Regions from separate parts of the Homo sapiens genome. Here regions 1, 3, 4 and 5 are each reported to be linked to region 2. The links are microRNA targets in miRTarBase. Many come from high-throughput screens and were not tested one by one. Region 2 holds a microRNA gene; each other region holds the end of a gene's coding sequence. Distances are between the middles of the regions.
The links. Region 2 holds the annotated microRNA hsa-miR-4526 (GCUGACAGCAGGGCUGGCCGCU, at 1,513-1,534, shown strand). A microRNA usually pairs through its seed, bases 2 to 8, with sites in the 3' UTR of a target mRNA and lowers its output. Matches are read on the target gene's strand: a 7mer-m8 pairs with bases 2 to 8, a 7mer-A1 pairs with bases 2 to 7 and ends in A, and an 8mer does both.

Region 1 (4,119 bases), not on the chromosome of region 2:
AGCGGTATGCTTTTTTTATGCCAACTCTGCCAAGTTTGGTCTCTTTTTGTCGAGCATTTCCTCCATTGTATGAGGATATTATGTCTTTGCTGATCCAAATAGGGCAAGTTTGTGCCTCTGATGTTGCCACTCAGACAAGAGACATTGATCCAATTATTACACGTAAGTGGTAACTTATTTTCAAGGGTTATCTTAATATCTCAAACAAAAAGGCCAAATTCCTTTCCAAATTTCTTGGCCTTAATGTTTTTTTTCCCTTATGTTGTAGGTCTTCAACAAATAAAGGAGAAACCAAGTGGATGGTCTCAAATCTGTAAAGATTCATCTTATAAAAATGGATCCAGGGACACTGGAAGCATGGATCCTGATGTACAGCTCTGTCACTGTATTGAAAGAACAGTAATTGAAATAATAAATATGAGTGTTAGTGGAATTTAAAACAAAATTTAAAACAACAAAAAGTTGTTTGCTGCATATACCCAACATGAATCTGCATATTAGTAACAACTCTAAACTGAATGGGAACAGTAAAGTATTGTCTTGGAATCACTAAAACAATTCAATTCAACATGAGTATAGTTTAGAACTTTATGAGAATTATGCTTGCTTGTTTCTGATTGGCACATCTTTGGATCTACTTTGCTGATATGTTTCTATTGTAGCAGCTGAGCTTTTTTTTTTTCCACTGGGAACACATGTAAGAAACTCATTATTGGAAAGGGAATTTGGCCTTGTATTTAGCTTTTGAAGTGAAGACTGCCATGCCTTTAATTTCTTATAAAAATGAGTCTGTGGGTAGCCCTAGTGTTTATTTTAACTGTGAGCTTGTAACAGAATGTGACAAAGATGCAAAGATGGGAGAGGAAAAAAGGGTAAAGGGAAAGGAGAATTAAGGAAATAATAGGAGTTAAAAACACAAGTAGAAATCTCAAAGATTTGCAGTGCAAGTAATAGTAATGCAAGTTGGAATTCTAGTTCTCAAGAAAGAGTATTGAGAAGACTTTTAAAAAGGCAAGTAGCTTTTGTAAATGATTTCTGTGGAAATACAGATGAGGATTTAAAGATTTCACATATTTGCTTCAATTTTTATTAATATATGAAGCCATATGTTTAAAGAGATACTTGAATAATTTGGAATTTTAAGATACTGGTGTAAAAGTGTTTACAGAAACATCTTTGTTCAAAGAAGAACCTGAGAGATCTCATTTAGTTTTATGTTTTAAATTTATTTTTATAATGCTTTATTAACTTACCTAATGCTCAGAGGGGGGAAATATGTATCAAATTAAATGAAGGTAGAGCAATAAAACCCACTGGATTAAAGAGCTCTTGGTTTGTCATCAGGATTATAATTCATATCTTACTTTGAGAAGATCTTTGAGTAAGAAAATGCAGTGTTTGAACCTGAGGAAAAGTTAAAGTGTAGAAAATATTGTCTTGCCGAAGGATTTTGCAGTCCTCTGTCAGTAACTTCCATTGATTAGGCAGACATATTCAGGTAAACCCTAATCATTAAAAAAAAATTATCAATGTAGAAAGTAATTCCCTTTTTTCTCTCTGAGATATACCTCAATCACACACTTCCCCACCCCCACTTGAAACAGACCTCTTCACTTGTGTTTTTTTTTTTTTTTTCCTGAGGTGGAGTCTTCCCCTGTTGCCCAGGCTGGAGTGCAGTGGGATGATCTTGGCTCACTGCAACTTCTGCCACCTGGGTTCAAGGGATTCTCGTGCCTCAACCTCCTGAGTAGCTGGGACTGCAGGCACGCGCCACCTGTATTTTTGTATTTTTAGTAAAGACGGGGGTTTGCCATGTTGCCCAGACTGGTTTTGAACTCCTGGCCTCAGGTGATCTGCCCACCTTGGCCTCCCAAAGTGCTGGGATTACAGGTGTGAGCCACCGCACCTGGCCAGACCGCTTCACTTGTAAAAGAAATTAGGCTAATAAGAAGGTGTAGTTTTTGAGAAATGAAATTTAACTTTAGCCTTTTCACTAGTAAATAGTCACATCTCATTTTCTTCCTTTGTAAAATGGGGTTACTACTGGCCCTACCTCATATTCTATGAGAATGAGTTTGTAGCTGTTTCAAATCATGAAGTGCATAGTATCACATGTGATAGAATATTTATAACTTTTTATTAGATGCTTAATGTTCAATTAAGTAATTTTGATGTGAAAAATAAAAGTAATAAAAGTATCTTAAAAATAGCATAAGAATTTTCATATTTTTAAACAAGGCAGTTTTGTAGTCCCTTAAGATTAAATACAACTGCTCCTTTTTTTTTTAAACTGAGGCCTTGCGATATTTTGTGTGAATAGATATGCCCTAGGAGTTCAGAAAAAGTTAAAAGTATGTTTTCTAATTAAATGCAGTGCACATTCCTGGATCAATATTCAAAGACTGGTCATAACCTGCTGTGTTAAAATAATCACATATGCTCTTTTTCATCAGATTTGTTGATGATGTAAATAAAATGTGTAAATATATTAGTAAATGTTAATATTCATGTATTTTAAGTTAAGGTTATAAAATTTGTCACAATGTGTTTTTTTATTCAAGTGAAAACAGATGTGTGCAGCTATTTTGAATATTGGTTTATAAACATTCATATTCTTTATCAAACGAACCTGTAGTTTTTGTGTTTCATTCCACTAGAGTTAACCTGAAGGGAACGGTTCAAGGGACTGTATTCGAGGTCTGTATGGCTCCAGGGCCTACGTGTATCCCTTTCTGTTATGCCACATACATTAAATGGCAATGCAAGGTGAGAGCCAGTTGAAACTCTTAGTAATTTAGGAGAGGAAAATGAGAGTAGTTATACTAGAGCAGTTACTCAAAAGAGTTGATTTTTTTTTTTTTTGAGACGGAGTCTCGCTCTGTCTCCCAGGCTGGAGTGCAGTGGCGCCATCTCGGCTCACTGCAAGCTCCGCCTCCTGGGTTCACGCCATTCTCCTGCCTCAGTCTCCCGAGTAGCTGGGACTACAGGCGCCCGCCACCACGCCCGGCTAATTTTTTGTATTTTTAGTAGAGACGGGGTTTCACCGTGTTAGCCAGGATGGTCTTGGTCTCCTGACCTGGTGATCCGCCTGCCTCGGCCTCCCAAAGTGCTGGGATTACAGGCGTGAGCCACTGCGCCCGGCCAAGAGTTGATGTTTTAAAAATTATAAAAGAGAAATGACAATTTGAAGGTATTTTTAAGGATTTATTTTTAAACATTATCCTTCCTTTCATTGTCTTAACAGTAAATTACTTCATCTTTGCTCATTCATATGTATTTTCACATTACTGAATCCCTAACACCCAGTTTGGGGTTTGCTTTGCCTTTTTTCACTTAACCTTATATGGGATTTTTTCTTGCAAGTTTAATTTTTATAAGTTTATTGGCTTCATAATGTATTGAATTCATCTGTCATAACCACCTCCATATTACTAGACTGGGAAGTTCATAATTTTTTTCAGTATTACCAATAGATATTATTGTCAATTGCGGTATCACATTTTCTTTCGTTTAGATTACGTCTTTAGGATAAATATCTGGAGCTCAGATTACTAGGTCAAAGGGTAGAGTTTATTTTTATGACTACAAGTTTTGTCATTTTTGGTAAGATATATCACAATTGACAATGAGGCAAACAAATCAACTAGCCCCCTCCTGCTCTTTCTTCCCAGCAAACTCCTTCCCCAAACTAGTTACTTGAATTTGAGAAACAGTATGAGGTTTTGCCTTTTGGAGACATTATTATTTGAGCCAAGTTTAGGTTATACAGATTTTTTAAAAAAATAACATGATTTGGCAAGATCATGATGAACCTCCTTTTCTTTGAGTAAATTAAAGTACTACTGGCAAATAATAAACTGGTCTTAGGAGGGATGGAAGGCGGATAAGCCTTAATGGAAGTAGAAGTGATCTGATACTGGAGACCCTGAGAGCTTGTCTCTGGCTTATTTTAGCATCCGGGAAAGCCTTGAATATTATGAAAGATAGATTGTAGCCCGATGTCACAGAGCCTTCTTACTTAAGTTTGGCTCAGCAGTCTGGCAATTCCCGCCTGAGTCTTCGCTATCCTGGCTACTGCAAAGCTGGGTAATTTAAATTGAGTGGCACTGATAAATGCTC
Region 2 (4,119 bases):
TGAGTGGGCAAGGAGCTTAATTAAGATCGGCTCCATGGCCGGGCGTGGTGGCTCACACCTGTAATCCCAGAACTCTGAGAAGCCGAAGCTGGTGGGTCGCTTGAAGTCAGGAGTTCCAGGACAGCCTGGCCAACATGGTGAAACCCCATCTCTACTAAAAATACAAAAATTACAAAAATTAGCCCGGCATGTTGGCGCACGCCTGTAATCCCAGCTACTCGGGAAGCTGAGGTGGGAGAATCACTTGAACCGGGGAGACAGAGGTTGCAGTAATCAGAAATTTCGCCACTGCACTCTAGCCTGGGCGACACAGCAAGACTGCATCCAAAAAAAGAAAAAAGAAAAGAAAAAGATTGGCTCCCATGGCCAAGATGCCCAGTGACAGGGAAGCTAGCCAAACACAGTAAGTGTGTTGAGACACTGGGGAATAGCTGATGGCCGTTAAATGAAAGAAAAAAATGTTGATTTTCTTTTTTTATATATGAAATATTCATTTTACACCATGTTAAATCCCAGAGCGGGCTATTTATAACCATTTCAAAATGCAAATATGTTCATTAGCAAAGGAGAGAAGAACTTTTCCAGTTCCATGAAGTTCACCAAAGCCCTAATTTTTTTTTTTTTTTTTTTTTTTTTTTTTTTTTTTTTTTTGAGACGGAGTCTCACTCTGTCGCCCAGGCTGGAGTGAAGTGGCCCTATCTTGGCTCATGGCAACTTCTACCTCCCAGTTGCAAGCAATTCTCCTGCCTCAGCCTCCTGAGTAGCTGGGATCACAGGCGTGTGCCACCACACCTGGCTAATTTTTGTATTTTTAGTAGAGACGGGTTTCGCCATGTTGACCAGGCTGGTCTTGAACTCCTGACCTCAGGTGATCCGCCCACCTCGGCCTCCGAAAGTGCTAGGATTACAGGCTTGAGCCACCGTGCCTGCCCCACAAAGCCCTAATTTTAAGAAACAGACAGGTACAGTGGCCTACAGCGCTCCTCACTAAGGCCCTGGCTTGAGGGCAAGCCTATCATGTGACTGAGCCTGACCAGGAAGTGCTGGCCCAGGTGGCAAGGAGCCTCGGGGCTCCAGGGACAAGGGGCGCTGGTAGCCAGGGAGGGGCGGCTTGAAGTGGCTGCAGCTTCTAATTCTTTCTGAAGCTGCCTCTTTCTGAGGGTGACTCCCTCTTCATTCACCCAGCAGGGTGACTCTGAGAAGTCAGGGAAAGTCTGGCACAGGGAGGGGAGTTCCATTTTTAATTCGGAAATTGCTCAGGAAGAATCATACCATCCGGATTTCCCTCGCGGCTGTATATTAATAAATGGTCACTTTCCTTGCTGAAATTCTCTGGTTTCCTTTTATCCACGTGAAGCTTCTGGAAACTCTTCTGGGTGGTTCTTCTGTTGCTTTTCTGCCCCTGCCCCCAAAAATGAGAACATGAGAAAGTGATGTCTTCTAGCCACCTGGAGGACCCTGCGGTGACATCAGGGCCCAGTCCCTGCTGTCATGCCCCAGGTGACGTGCTGGGCTGACAGCAGGGCTGGCCGCTAACGTCACTGTCCTGGCTTCTAACGCTGGTAGTAACCAACAGAGTTTAGTTTTGCTTTGACAACTCCTCCTACAGCCAAAACTATTGTTATGGCCCACATGTCATTCCTATTTACCCTAAATAAGGAAAAACAAAGGCTATTCTGGGCTCCCGGCAGTGCTTGTGGTGGGGGTTATTTGCAGCGTTACCATGGCAGGCTGCCCTTTCCACCACGGCCACCCCGTGATTTTCTCTGAAAACTGCGACAGACTCGCAGCCTGCCCTGAATTTTCTTCACACAGCCTGGGGGCATCCGAATGCACGGGAGATGTTTTACACTCAGATGAAACAAACTGTTTAGACCTCGGGGAAAAGAGACTGTGCTTGAACAAAATGAACCAGGAGAAAGCGCCCTCCTGAGACATGTCTCTGCTTTCATGTTTGAATTGCCTGGGATTCTGTTCTCTAATTTCTGATCCTTATAAACTAAAACTGCCTAGGAACATTGAGCATCCTGACTTTGAAGGAGTCTCTGTGGTGTTTTTGTGCTACCATACATGGGGAATAATGATGTGAGGCAGAGGGAGAGGGAATGAATGGGAGAGCCAAGAGGGAAGAGCGAGCCGGGGGGAAAGGAGCGCGCAGTGTTTCCTGCTGCGGTTAGGACCTCACGCCTTGCCAGTACAGAGCTCGGTGGCAAGAGCCGCTGGGAGCTGCTCCCATCAGTTAGAGGATGTGGAGAGGGAGCACCAGAAGAGGACAGCCCGCAGCCTGGCTCGCAGCCTGAGGGACGCTGTGGGTGCTCCCAGCCGGGCGAGCACGCTCTGGGAGCGGATCTGCAGGGGAGAAGCACGCGAGCCTAACGTGAGCGTCCCGCCTGTCGCGTGTCCTGCCTTGGTAAGCGCCCTCTCCGGTCCTTCCACACTGAAAGCTTCCAGCAGAGATCAAGGGAAGGAGTATTGTGTGAGACTTGCAGATTTCCTCCTTTCTGTCTGGACTGGTTTGATATTTGCCTGTTGAAAAGATTACTGAACGCAGTGTGACAAGATGAGCCGTCTAGCTGCGTTCTGCTTGCCTGTGTGTGTGACACGTCCAGGTGTGAGGCCAAACCTGAGAAGTGCAGACTGCTCACTGATAGACGTTGCTGTAAACAGTAGTGCCCTGGGTGTACAGCTGGTCTCAGGATCGGAGACCCCGGACTTATTCTCTGCTCGGTGACACGGCCGGCTTCCTGCCGCAGAGCTCCTGGTTTCTGTTGATGGCAGTTGATAATTGGTAGCCACAGTCTGCGGTCGGAGCCACAGCATTTGAGTCTAGCACCTGGGGTGGGCCCTGCTGATACAGTAGAGAGAGAGTGAACGAGGCAGACAGAAACACACCCCCCCCCCCTCCACGCTCACACACTCTCCCACACCCCATGCCAGCTATAACTGCAGCTCTGAGCTGCCTGGAGAGGAGATTGCCGGAAGCTGAAGGGATGCTTTGAACGTGGGGGGGCTGCGTCACAGTTGGACTCCCACTTGCAGAGGACCTGATTATGTCCAGTGACCACCTGAACAACAGCACACTGAAGGAGGCTCAGTTCAAAGACCTGTTCTTAAAAAAAGGTACATTTCCCAAGAACTGCTATGGATGATGCATGCTCTTTCGGGTTTGCTGTGGTTCTTCTTGGAGTTTGGTCTGAGGACAGAGCTGAGAAGAGGAGAAGCTCTTTCTCAAGAAGTTTCTTTCTACCTAAGAGGGGTCTGTCAACTCAGAACATTTCCGGGTGGGACTCCCTTTAGGAAGATGCATGTCAGGCTTTTTCATCTTCTTTCAAGCCTGGAATTAGTTTGTTCCTGTTGGAGGTGTTATGCATGAGTACACAGTTTGTTGCTTTGGAGTTTTGTTTTTTTCAAATGTCTGTATATAAGGCTGAGACCTCCCCTGGAAATTCTGCTACTTGTTAATAATTCCTTTTTCTTCACCCTCATGAGCTGAAAACTGCATTTTAAAGAAAAGGTATTTCTCAGGATGTGGCTGGTTCATTGAACACTTTCTTAGGTCATCCATGTAGTGACAGGAGCTATTAGGAAGGAGAACTGTGACTCTGAGAGATAGAGAGCCAAAGAAAGTGAGAGACAGACAGACTGGCTGTGGGATGAGAGCCTCAGAAGCCACCACTCTCCCCTGTGGAAATGAAGGTTCCATTCCATGTGCAGCTGTGTTTTTTTTCTGATGCACTTTCCTAAATTAATAATGTGGAGGTGGAGGTGAGGGTGGATTTTAAATGAATCCTATAGGGGGAATTATGGCTTATGTATGTATTTTTTTCCATTTATAGCATGGCAGAGGGATAGACTTTTAAAAGGTTTATAATTGCTCTTACTCCTCTGCTGATTTTTTAGAAAATCCTGTCAGTCATCTTTGATCAGAACATATTTAGGTAAATTTCTTTCTGAAGAGATCATGAAACTCTAGATTCTAAAATGCGTGGTGAGAAGTAATTGTAGTGGATGAAGGCTTGGGCTTTCATAAAGTGAGGAGATGCCACTCCAGCTGGACGGGCTCGTGGAGTCTGCATTCGAGGGATTCCCTAGTCCGTCCAGTCATCACGGGCTGCTGCC
Region 3 (4,102 bases), not on the chromosome of region 2:
CTCTGCTCATGTGTGGGGCCAGCCCCCACGCGTCCCCTCGTCAGCCGCTTGCTATCCTTGCAGCTGGCGTGAAGTTCCGTGTCCTCCGGCACGAGGCCGGCAGGCCCCTCCGCCTCCTGATGCAGGTGAGGCCCCTTGTGGCCAGGACGCCCCTACGCTGCTGCCCCTGTTCTGGGACGGTGGGGTCAGCTGGGTGTAGTGTCTGGGTGGCACCACGCCAGCCTGCGATGAGGTACAGGGAGGGCCCAGTGGAGCTGAGGGGGAAGGCCCACGCGGGACCCCCTCCCCCTTACCCCCAGGGCCTGAGGACACTGGTGTGGTCCTGTGGATGGGGCCCATTCTGCCCTGTGTCGGAGGCGCCCTTGGCTGGCTGGGGCTGCCCTGGGCCCCACAGGGCTCAAGTTCTGGGTGGAACAGAACCGACTGAGTGAGTCCTGGGGTGGGGTGTGCGTCCCTGTGGCACGGCCCCTCAGAGTTGGGCAGCCCCGAGGGGAGATGCAGCTTCTGCCTCCCCCCAGCGCTCCCTTCTGGCTGCAGGCTCACTTGCCTCCTTGGGAACTGGGACTGGCTTCTCCCACAGGCAAGGGAATGTCTGAGACAGCACTGGCCCTGCCTCACAACTGCCCGCCCCCACCCTCTCTCTGCAGACGGGGTTGGAGCTCAGACCACCCCACTGACCGCTGCCCTTGTCCTTCCAGATAAACCCACTGCCCTACAGCCGCGTGGTGCACACCTACCGCCTCCCCAGCTGTGGCTGCCACCCCAAGCACTCCTGGGGCGCCCTGTGCCGCAAGCTGTTCCTTGGGGAGCTCATCTACCCCTGGAGGCAGAGAGGGGACAAGCAGGACTGAGGGAACTGCTGGCTCGCCTGGCACCACCACACGGCCACAGCCAGCCATCTGCTCTGCCAGGGTGGCACCAGCTCAGCTGGCGCATGTCCTGTGCTTTGTGGACGCTGCTGTGTGCTCCTGAACACGGCAGGCCCTGCTATCACACCTTGGGCTTGGAGGTCATTGGGAGTGAGCAGATGTGGGGGTGGCCAGCCAGGCTGGCCGCACTCCATCACTGGCACTGCCTGCCTTGGGACCCGCTTCCCACCTGCTGCGGTCACCATGGTGGCGAGCACAGCAACCCCAGGTGTCCAGAGCACTGCCCCATGCCCACCCTGTGTACCCAGGTCCAGAGGGTCCGTCCACCACAGCAGCCCCAGGTGGAGGGCTGGTCTCCCTGGGGGCTCCCCAGTGGCTCTGCCCTGGCTGTGGGGGTGGAGGGACCTTGCCAGGATGAACCCCCCAGTCCCAGGCACCCTCTAGCTCCCTCAGCCGAACAGCACCCTGCATCTGGGGGATTGAAGCAGTCGCTGACCCCCGTCCCCAGCGGGCCCGGGCCCTCACTCCCTGAACCACACGGGGTTTATTTGCGGATGTTCCCTGGAGAGGTCGCTTTGTGAAGAAACCATCAGCAGGCTGTGAGCATCGCCAGGCTGCTGTGGGGGCGGGAGCAGCCTCAGTGTCAAGGGCCCGCCCACTGACCCAGCCGTACCTATTCGTCCACGGTGCCCCGTAGCAGCAGGTCCTGCGGCCAAATCTGTCTCCCTTCATGGGCCTCCCAGGGAAGGAGGAAGCCCTGCTGTGCAGACACCTCTGTGGCCCCCCAGGAGTGTGAGTGGCCTGGGGAGGGGGCCGTGGCACTGAGGCCGAAAGTGCCTGCCAGACGGCACGGTCTGGGTGCGGGTGTTCCCTGTGAGCCCGAGTCCGCTTCAGGAGGGGAGCCTGCAGGTGCCGGCTGGTGAGGGGATGACGCGCTGTGGGTGGGAGGAGGCAGCGCCCATCTCAGCAGCACCAGGACTGCCTGGGACTCCCTGGCAACCCAGCACCGGGGAAGCCGTCAGCTGCTGTGACAATAAAACCTGCCCCGTGTCTGGAGCGCAGGCTCGGTCCCGGGTCCATGTGCAGCGCGGGTCCAGGGAAGCTCTGGGGGGGGGGTGTGTGGACGCTACTCGAGGGACTTGGGCTGCCTCACGTGGGTCTGCCCTGCAGAGTCTACACCGGCCTCCTGCTGGAGGCCCTGACGACGGCTGATGGGACGGGCTCACAGGCCCTGGGCCCTTGAGGACTTTGGTGTAGGCAGGTGAACCCGGGCCGCCCACCCTGGGGGCCGCCCACCCTGGGGTCGTGGCCTTGCCTCGACATAGATGGTGCAGGGGTGTAGGCCTCCAGGGGTGGGGCGAGCAGCTCCTGCTCTGAATCTGTGGACTCCATGTGGGGTGGGCCCCTCGTGGGTCCTGGCCCAGTACAGCCTGCGACTGCCACAGCTGCTAAGAATGGTCTCTGTCGCCTGCAGTGCTGGGGGCCCAGCTGGCGGGCCCCACAGCCCGTTCCCAGCCCGAAGTGTACAGGCCTCCATCCAACCTGGACTTCCAGGCAACCAGAGGCACTCAGGGCCCACCAACCCCCTACCTGTGTCCCCTGCCTCCCCCCAGCTGCCCACCTGGCCCACCACCCCTCCCATCTGTACTCTCCCCCACTCACCCTCCAGTTGCCTACCTGGCCTACCCTGCTCCTACCAGCTGCCCACCTGGCCTGCCACCCCTCCCACCTGTGTCCCCTGTCCCCCAAAGCTGCCCACCTCGCCCCCCACCCTTTCCACCTGTACCCCCAACTCCCCCTCCAGCTGCCCACCAAGTCCACCAACACCCCCAACCTGTACCTCCCGCTCCCCCCAGCTGCCCACCGGGTCCACCAACACCCCCAACCTGTACCTCCCGCTCCCCCCAGCTGCCCACCGGGTCCACCAACACCCCCAACCTGTGCCTCCCGCTCCCCCCAGCTGCCCACCGGGTCCACCAACACCCCCAACCTGTGCCTCCCGCTCCCCCCAGCTGCCCACCGGGTCCACCAACACCCCCAACCTGTGCCTCCCGCTCCCCCCAGCTGCCCACCGGGTCCACCAACACCCCCAACCTGTGCCTCCCGCTCCCCCCAGCTGCCCACCGGGTCCACCAACACCCCCAACCTGTGCCTCCCGCTCCCCCCAGCTGCCCACCGGGTCCACCAACACCCCCAACCTGTGCCTCCCGCTCCCCCCAGCTGCCCACCGGGTCCACCAACACCCCCAACCTGTGCCTCCCGCTCCCCCCAGCTGCCCACCGGGTCCACCAACACCCCCAACCTGTACCTCCCACTCCCCCCAGCTGCTCACTGGGCTGCCACGCCTCCTGGGGCTTCCACCAGGTCAAGGTCTTGACACAGCTCAGTCCACTGCTCTGTGATGGCCATGTCATGGGTCGTGCCTGGCAGCGGTCACCCCCTCTGCTGGGCACTGGGCTGACTGCCTATCCCGAGGGCCAGCTAGGTTTGGCGCCAGAGCTGGCCAATGGAACACCGTCACCCCAGCCACTCGCAGCCACCAAGAGGTGCCGCCTGCACCTGCAGGCTCCGTCTGTCCTTGCTGCACAGCCCCTGCCTGGAGACAGCCTACACCTGTGGGGTGCCCCTCATCCCTCCACCAGAGCTCTGGTCCCCCCTGCCTTGCCGACCCAGACAGGGCAATGGGCTGGAGCTTTTCCAAGGCCTGCCCAGGACCATTTATGGACCCTCAGGGCACCCTCAGAAGCAGACACCTTCCCTTTCAGAGTTGGGGCCGCCCACAGAGAAGGGTCTCACCAGTACTTCACAGATTCAGACTTACAGAAATGCTGTGAGAATAACACAGATGCTTCCAGCACCCTTCACCTACATCCCCCCACGACCACATGCCATGTGTATGTTTTCACATTTTTTCTTTTTTTTTTTTTTTGAGAGCGGGTCTCTATTTTCCAGGCTGGAGTGCAGCCTTAACCTTCCTGGGCTCAGGTGATTCTCCCACCTCAGCCTCCTGACTATCTGGGATTACAGGCACCCACCACCACGCCTGGCTCATTTTTGTACTTTTAGTAGAGATGGGGTTTCACCGTGTTACTCAGGCTGGTCTCAAACTCTTGGGCTCAAGCCATGTGCCTGCGTCGGCCTCCCAAAGTGGTGGGATTACAAGTGTGAGCCACCGGGCCCAGCCAGCACATTCTTTATGTTTTTCTGCACCATTTGAGTCAGCTGCCCATTTT
Region 4 (4,119 bases), not on the chromosome of region 2:
GGCATAGCTCAGACACAAGTGGCCTTTCCTTTTCACAGCCCAGCTGTAAAACTCGTGTCCCTCATTCGAAACTGGATAAAGGGCCCACTGGGGCCAATGGTCACAACACGACCCAGACAATAGACTATCAAGACACTGTGAATATGCTTCACTCCCTGCTCAGTGCCCAGGGTGTTCAGCCCACTCAGCCCACTGCATTTGAATTTGTTCGTCCTTATAGTGACTATCTGAATCCTCGGTCTGGTGGAATCTCCTCGAGATCTGGCAATACAGACAAACCCCGGCCACCACCTCTGCCATCAGAACCTCCTCCACCACTTCCACCCCTTCCTAAGTAAAAAAAGAAAAAGAAGAGGAGAAAAAAACTTCTTTAAAAAAACACATAATTTTTCTTTTTTTTTTTTGGACTAAGAAAATTACTTATGAAATATGTCATCCTTGGACTAGGGAATAAATTGATATTGAGACATAGTTAGGAGGGTGGTAGAAGGCCTTGGCTATATATCTGCTGTCTCATGCATTTAACTATTTTCTTACAGTTTTTACTGGTATTAGAGAGGTGTTGAAGCTGTGAAGGATTAAGGACACATTCTGAATTCTTGGCCTCTCCACCATCTAATTAGGTTGATTGGAGTTGATATCTTCCCTCTTCTTGCCAGAGCTGAAAAATGGAGGGTTTCTTGTATCAGACAATTGTGGATCCTTTCGGTGTTTAATATATCAGAAGAGAGGAAGTATTTAAACGTCAAATCTTTTAATAGACTTAATAATTTAAAGAAAGTAAGTTATCTGTTTAGTTTTTTTATATAATTGGGAAGGGGATAGGGATTTTGCTGTGTGTATATGATACATAGCAGTAACTCCTGGTGGGTGGGATTGGAGGGTGGGAATGTGTGAGGGTGGGTGGGAGGCTAGGTTTTTGGCTAGGAGTTCTGAAATAGGCTCAGGCCACTTTTTTCAGACTTTTAAGTGTGTATGTAAGTGTGGGTATGTGTGTTTTTAAGTGTGTGTGTTTAAAAATAATGTTTTATCTTCCCTCCCTGTTCCTTACCGTTTTCATTTTCCAACAGTCTACTAGAGAAAAACATGGTTGGCCTTGAGAACATAAAGGAAGAGGCATGTATTTGACATGGTATTTTTCCCTTTCTTTATGTTATAATTGAGTAGTAGCCCTCTAATTTGTAGTTTGGGCAAGTACAGCCAACACCCTGACTCTTAACCTTATTATGAGAACTTCCTTTTTACCCCTTTTTTTGTTTTTGTGCAAAACAGAGATGGGGTTGAGGAAGGAGGGTTGGCGAGCAAGGCCAGCTTCTGCCCTACAGAATTGGGTGTGTCTTTTTTTTCAAGTGAGGCTTTGGGAAAGTGTTCAAATGAGAGCAGTCTTAAGGTCTCTAAGAGATGGGGAATGTGCTATGTATATCCTGCCTGTGAAAGCCCAAACCATATGGGAGAAGCTAGAGGATACTAAAAACAATGAAATTGTGATTTGGAAGTTTAGAACATTGTTTTAAAAATTACATTATAAATGTAAGACATGCTTTTTATGTGTATATCCGAAGGGAAACAGCTACATCCTCAAGTTTTTGCAGCCTATATGACTTGAGATTGGAGCTTGTGAATTTAACAGTACTGGTGCCATGAGAATGAGCAAAGCCTAGCCAATGGATACTATTGTGTTTAGATTGTTCATCTTTGGTAGCTTTAGGTTCTTGATCGAGGTTCTTAAGATTTCTAAGTCCTTTATAAAAATAGGTCAAGAGTCCTGTTGTTATGGAGGCTTGATTATCCCAGATATTAGGAGTGAACATTTTTAATAAATCTTTCAGAAAATCTTGGCTAGAAAGAATTCTAAGTTAGTTGTCTAACCACTGAAAACTACCTAGCCAGAGATCATTTAATGAGATATTCTTTGATCTTCATTGCATTTTTTTTGCTCTGGAAAAGGTGGTTCAATTTGAGTTTGTTTTCATGATTTGATTGCAGCTTACTTCATGCCAAGGATTTTTTAGGGAGAGGTCGAATTATTTTTCATTTGGAAGTCATAGGGAGACAGGAGTTGTACTTATGCTGCTACTTGCCAGGAACAGGTTGGGAAGAAAATTGTGGCTGTTGGAATTGATGATGTACTGGCCTAATATAGAAAGGAATTTGTAGGCAGGAGTAAACGTTAACTGACGGTGGGTTAGTGCCCTGCATCTTGCATATTTGAACTGTCTAGAGTTCCTGCCATTGCTGGGTATAAAACGAGGAGCTCTCTGTTGACCTGTAAATCATTAATACTTCTTGACTTAGAGTGTCACTTCACTTTATAGATGACATTTTCCTCTTTCCCCTTGATATTTTCTATGTTGTGTTAGATAATTGGTAGATATATAGTTGTGGTTTAGTACATTTAGGGCTTCTATTTATTTAGATTTTGTTTGTTGGAGTCTGTTTCCAAAAGGGAATGTGCCATTTAGTCTGCATCTGTATCTTTGTGGACTTGATGATCACTGGTTTGATTTTGAAAAATGTCTTTTCCAGCTTTTAGTTACTCTCATCAAATGTCACATATTTTCTAATCACATGCACTCCTTTACCACAGAGGCACATAATCATTTGGCCTCATAGCAGTTATCCATGGCCGTACTGTAGTAAAGTTCCTTAGAACTTTGCCAGGAGTGAACTAGAAAAAAGTGCTTACTAGGGCCTAAGAGTTGCTTTGTGCCGTGTAGTCCGGCCTTTGCACTAGTAGATCATTGCTGACATAGGTCAGTTTAGAGACCTTTCTGTGTTAATGCCTCCTGGTACTGTCTTAAGATACGTACAGTGTCTGTTTTTAGATCTATGCATATGTCATGAAGCTCCTTGTGGGCTCTGCATGAAGCTGCTGCTTTGTTTTTGGGTTAACAGATGTGCCTGTCAACTAGCATGTGTATTGTCCAAATTCCATAAACTTAAGGTTTTTAAGGGCTGTGTGGTTTCTGAGCTCTATGTGTCTTTCCTATCCTTGTACCTTCAAAGGGTGAGAAATGAGATTTATACATCCAAAGTTAGTCTGATAAATATGGCTTTTTGTTTCTCCATGTAACCTAGACTGTCAAAAATAAGTGATGGTGATAAGTAGGCCTGGAGCCTCAGCTTCTGTAAATCTCATTCCTAAAATTTTGCTAGACTCGTGTTGGCAAAAACAAATACCTGTGGATTGTCCTTAAGGCTTTTAATCAGATACCTGTGTTGCTGTTAGCTGAACTGTAGTGAAGCATCGATCCAAATCGGTCTTCTGAAGTATCAGTTATGCTTTTGAGTTTAGAAAATACTTAGGTGTTAGTCTAGTCTTCCCATTCATGAATCAGTGTATGTCCATATCAGAGAGCCTCAACTTCTTTTTTCTTCCTTTTTAAAAATGATTTTAGTGTTTTGATTTAGTGTATACTACATAGTTCAGTATTATTGGCTTTACCAGTGTTGACAGAAAAATTTTAAATCTCCAGTTGCAAACAGCAATGGATTAGGATATGGAAATAAAATCATGGTGACATCACTGCTGAGTTATCTTAAACCTCTGCTACTTAATTCTCCATATTGAAATGCATACTCCTCCACATACATGGCTTCCAAGTAAAGGCAATTGTAGAGGGGCCCTGTCTATCCCAGTATGGTTGGATTTTAAACATATCTGTGTTTCCGTTATTTTGGGAACTGATTAATATTTACAATTTTTTTTGTTTATGAGTTATTTTGATACTAAGAAAAGAGAGAATCTAGAACATCTTGCAGTTGAAATACAAATTTTATTCTTTTGGTCTTGGGAGAATTTAAGCAGTCTATGCAACTCATCAAATGGTGAGAAATAGCCCTCCGAGGTTCCAGTAAGCTTTCAGTGACTTTGATACCTCCCCAAGTTTCTTGAGTTGCTGCTTGTTAACACCCAGCTTTTAACTGAGTGTTTGCTCCTGATGGTTTAGGAGATTTTCATGTTGTATCACACTGTCAAGTTTTATTTTGTCTTTTTATCCCTCCGTGGATGTGAGTTTGAAACAAGCACGGTACAGTAATCCTGCCTGATAGAGTAGTCTGGAATGAGAATTACTTTTTGGGTGAGAGAGTTCTCCATTTTAATGTTTCTAAAGTTTT
Region 5 (4,119 bases), 7.7 Mb from region 2:
GGCGCGCGCCGCCAGGGGGCAGGGCGGCCGCCTGCCCAGGACCGGCAGGTACGCGGCCTTGCGGCGCCGCAGCACCAGCGGGCTCCCGGACTACCGGGCGCCGCCGTCCCCCGAGCCCCCGCCCTCCCCGGGGAGTGCGGACCCGGACTCCAGCCCTCTGGCCAAGGCCGCCTCCCCCTCGCCACCCCTGCGGCTGGAGGGCTCGCCCCCCACCAGGCGGGACTCCGGGAGCTCCCAGTCGGATGACCCATCCAGCAGCAATAAGGGCTACACACCCCTGCGGGAGGCCGGCACCTCCACCGAGTCGGTCTTGGACGCAGTAGCTGGTCAAACGCGAGACTCTGCTGTGGCCGCCCCCGTTCTGGGTGCGGAGCAGAGCTCGCCGGAGGGTGCCAGCCAGGAGCCACCCACGGCCGAGCAACCTCAGCCGGTGCAGAGGCAGTTTACAAACAAGGAGAAACTCATCATGATTTCCAGGTCTCATGCCATAGGGGTAGAAGAAGAACTGGAAAGCACAGGCATTTAGAGAAAGGGGTGGGTTGGGGAGGAGGAAAGAGAAAATGGGAGAAACGCCCACTTGAATCAGTGCATTAACAGGTCCCTGTTTCTTTTGTGGACTGATCCGAGGACATCATTCAATATCCAAAGAGCTGCAGAATGTTATCCTTGAATTGCGTCCACAAGATTCCTGTAGATAACTCCAAGGATTTTTTTTTTTAAGCAAACTAGTCTTTTTATGTCCGATGGTGATTGTATGTTCAATGAAAACCAAATGTATTAAAAGGTCAGCAATCTAGTCCATTAGATAAAATCTTTTAATTTTCTTAGGATCAAAATAATATATTTTTGACAGTAACTGTGCACTTTACTCCGACTTTTTTTTTTAATCCCTCATTTCCCGACCCCTGTACTCTGCGCTGGTTTTGCCCACAGCTGCTTGCGAATGGCAGGCTTTTTTCTCCATTCCTTTGCGGAACATAGAAGAGTTTGTCTCAGTTCTCTTAGAATTGATGTTACTAACTGAAGTCAAAGCCAAAAGCATGAATAATTCAGGAACGAGCACTTTCCTTGCCCCACCCCACTGTGCTCACCCAATGCCCAAAAGCTTCTTCATTTTTAAACGGGTGTGTACGTTTTGCTACTAGGCTATGTGGTGGAGACTGGAGGGGACCAGGAACTAGATGGACTGTTACATTCCGAAATTTATATCAAGTACACCATGCTTTATTGAGTGTTATCACACCTGTATTGAAAATAGCATTAATATTTAAAATCTTTTTTAATAAAAGAAGTTTCCGAACAAACAGTTAAACATAATATTGCCTCATTTGCCTTGGAGCTAGCTCATCTGGTACCTCTGAAATATTTTGCTGTGACACTGCTACCAGGACTGTTGTGATCTTCCCCCAAAGTACTCAGCACCATTGTCGCATGTCCAGCGTATTTTTAAGCTTAAAATGTAGGGTAGTATTTAACATTTGGGAATTTCTCTTTCAAATAGAATGAAACGTTAAGTAAATAGTAATATGCCTATGATACTTCTCATTTACCTGCAAGTATTAATTTGCAGAGCACCAGGCTTAATATTCTCTTCCCATCCTCTTGGCTATCACTGATTATAAGTTAATGGTCTTGATCCATGGCCTACATAGACAAAAAGATAATGTTTTAATAATTTGGTAGATTGTTTACACTTGATGTCATTAAAAGTGAATTAGTTAATTTTCAAGACCAGGAGACAAGATGTCTTCATTTTGGTCTCCTTGGGCAAAGCGCTAGTCCTGTAGACAGAGTGCAGATTCCGAGCTGAGATTGGACCCAGCTGTTGGCATCTCCTAGCTGTGAGGCCTTGTACAAGTCACAAACTCTGAGTCTCAGTCATCTTTCTGTAAAATGAAGAGAACCAGACATATCTCATGGAGCTATGAGAGGAATAGAACAGGGTCAGGGTCAGAGGAGGGTTTATATGTGTGGAGTTTACCAGAACCCTTGGCCCACAGGATGTATTCAATAGATGGGGGTTATTGTAATTATTATTACCATTGTAATATATTGCTGAATGCATAGTGTAGAAGAATGGACCTTCCTTGAACTTGAGCTCAAGAAAGTCTAGTCTGAAATCTGGGATATCCACCTATTATCTGTATAACCTTAGACAAATCACTTAATCCCTCTGGGCCTCTGGTAGATGATATAATCTCTATGATCTTCAGCTCTAAAAGCCTTACTTAAATTCAGGCTCTTGTCCTGGATGTAATCATATCACATTTGTACCTACAACTTGGCAAAGAGTGAATATACGTCGTCAATTACCATTAGCTCAACATTCTGTAATACACTTTAAAAGGGCCTAATTTATTCTCAGATTGGATCTGCATTAAACCGGTAACTCACTTTAAGGCTGTAGATTAATATATTGGGCTCTTCTATAAAGCAAAAGTGAGTTTGCACTAAGGAGTGACATGCAAGTGTAATAAGACCTCAAGGTAGTGTTAAATTTCAACAGTCTCAATTGCTTTATCACACTTCCAAAGTAAATGTCAAACTTCCTTAGGTTTTCTTCTCCATTACCTTGGGTACTGGGTAATTTATATACTGAGATAGCGTGTTACTTCAAGGGGAAAACAGGTTCTGGTGTTCTACAATACTGTTTCCAGTCCTCGGAGAATGCACTGTAAATGTTACATTTATCAAATGCTAAGTGACATTTAGCAAATAATAAAGCTAATACCTCTTAGCTTAACTAAGGAGGGGTGGACAGAATACTGTTTATATCTCACAAACTTAGTTCCATATCAGATAATATCTAACTTAACCATTGAACAATTTAACTAGATTTTTTTTCTGAAGATAGACAAAGATGAGCTCAATTTTCCAAATCTTGGGAGGAGCCTGTGATTTCTTTAGACTTCAGAGGAAGTGTATAAGTGTAGTAATTCACAATCGTAACTTTCATAGGAGCAGAAATCTGCAATAATGCTAATTTTCACTCAGTACTTACTGTGGGTTCAGTACTATTGTAGGAGCTTGGTACACATGATCTCAGTGAATCCTCACAGCAACTCTATTGAAGTAGGATCATTCTTACCGCTGTTTTGCAGAGAAAGACACTGAGGTCAGAAAGATGGAATTGTTGTCCAGGGTTACACAGCTGGTAAATGGTGGATCCAGGATTTACACAGAGTTTGGAAGATTAGGTAGACCTGTCGGCAGATGCTGAGTTGAAATGGGCATTTCTGGAGACCATCAAAATACTTTATATATTCTTTATTTCCTGCCAGATCCCTTTCCAGACCATTCTTAGAGAAATGCAGAAAATTGTCAGAATGCACAGTCAGATAAAAAGCTGGAGTTCGTAAATCTTCAGACGGGCATGAACAAGTTTTTTTGTAAGTGACTTTTCAGGGGTTTTTGTACACAATAAATAAGAGTATTTGAAAGGGCCTTATAGATGATAGAATCCCCCCACCTTTAATTTATAAATGAGGTTTCTAAGATTTAGAAAGATGGAACAATTTATTCTGAGACAAACAGCAGTGGCAGGACTCGAATGTTAAATTAAAATAATTGCAACAATTGGTGTGATGGTATTTTTTCCCTGAATTTCTGTCATGTACCAGCTGGGTGACCATGGACAAGTTACATAGTCTCTCTGTGTCTCAATTTCCTTTTCCACACTATAGGAATAATAATGTCCCTATCTTACAGGACTGGAGTAAAGATTAAATGAACTAATATTTGTGTAAAGTGCTTATAATGGGCTTGGAACATAGAGAGTATTATACAAAGGTTTGTTCCTTTTATTTAAAATAGAATCAACTGCTAAACAATTACTTCATATGACCTTCCTTTTTATTAATAGAATAATTTTAGGCTTAAAAATCTAAAGTATAAGGCAACATAGCATAGTGGCTCAAAGTGTGACTTAGGGGGTTATATAACATTATAACTGGGTCTTCACATCTAGTAAATGGAGATAATAAATGGAATTTGGCACATAGAATTAATTATTTAAATGAGGACTAAATAAACTAATATAATTAAAGGACTTAGAACAACTCCTGGCACATAAAAATATTCAGTAAATGTTAACTACTATTATTAAGGCAAAATACAGAA

Region 1: the mRNA of INTS2 is a reported target of hsa-miR-4526. Seed matches in the 3' UTR shown: 7mer-m8 at 1,461-1,467.
Region 3: miRTarBase lists PIGQ as a target of hsa-miR-4526. The part of its 3' UTR that is shown has no 7-base or 8-base seed match.
Region 4: the mRNA of CCNT1 is a reported target of hsa-miR-4526. The part of its 3' UTR that is shown has no 7-base or 8-base seed match.
Region 5: the mRNA of TMEM200C is a reported target of hsa-miR-4526. Seed matches in the 3' UTR shown: 7mer-A1 at 3,320-3,326.

The regions. Positions count from the first base shown.
Region 1 is chr17:61,863,876-61,867,994 of GRCh38, reverse strand. It overlaps INTS2 (integrator complex subunit 2), which reads left to right. Exons shown (of 25, transcript NM_001351695.2): 24 at 1-162; 25 at 269-2,628. The coding sequence ends at 438. Among named protein-coding and RNA genes, the nearest start is that of BRIP1, 2.4 kb to the right of the region's middle.
Region 2 is chr18:13,609,655-13,613,773 of GRCh38, forward strand. It overlaps MIR4526 (microRNA 4526), which reads left to right and starts at 1,460; the gene lies at 1,460-1,546. All of the region lies in intron 4 of LDLRAD4 (low density lipoprotein receptor class A domain containing 4), which reads left to right. RefSeq lists enhancers at 2,970-3,199, 3,620-4,119.
Region 3 is chr16:582,185-586,286 of GRCh38, forward strand. PIGQ (phosphatidylinositol glycan anchor biosynthesis class Q) reads left to right here. Exons shown (of 11, transcript NM_004204.5): 10 at 64-125; 11 at 699-1,925. The coding sequence ends at 851. Among named protein-coding and RNA genes, the nearest start is that of RAB40C, 5.8 kb to the right of the region's middle. RefSeq lists enhancers at 973-1,729, 1,730-2,485.
Region 4 is chr12:48,689,252-48,693,370 of GRCh38, reverse strand. CCNT1 (cyclin T1) reads left to right here. Exons shown (of 9, transcript NM_001240.4): 9 at 1-4,119. The coding sequence ends at 338. Among named protein-coding and RNA genes, the nearest start is that of KANSL2, 9.1 kb to the right of the region's middle.
Region 5 is chr18:5,886,605-5,890,723 of GRCh38, reverse strand. TMEM200C (transmembrane protein 200C) reads left to right here. Exons shown (of 2, transcript NM_001395400.1): 2 at 1-4,119. The coding sequence ends at 526. MIR3976HG (MIR3976 host gene) reads right to left here. Exons shown (of 10, transcript NR_172496.1): 8 at 3,002-3,203; 9 at 1,551-1,644. Among named protein-coding and RNA genes, the nearest start is that of TMEM200C, 6.9 kb to the left of the region's middle. RefSeq lists a silencer at 1-161.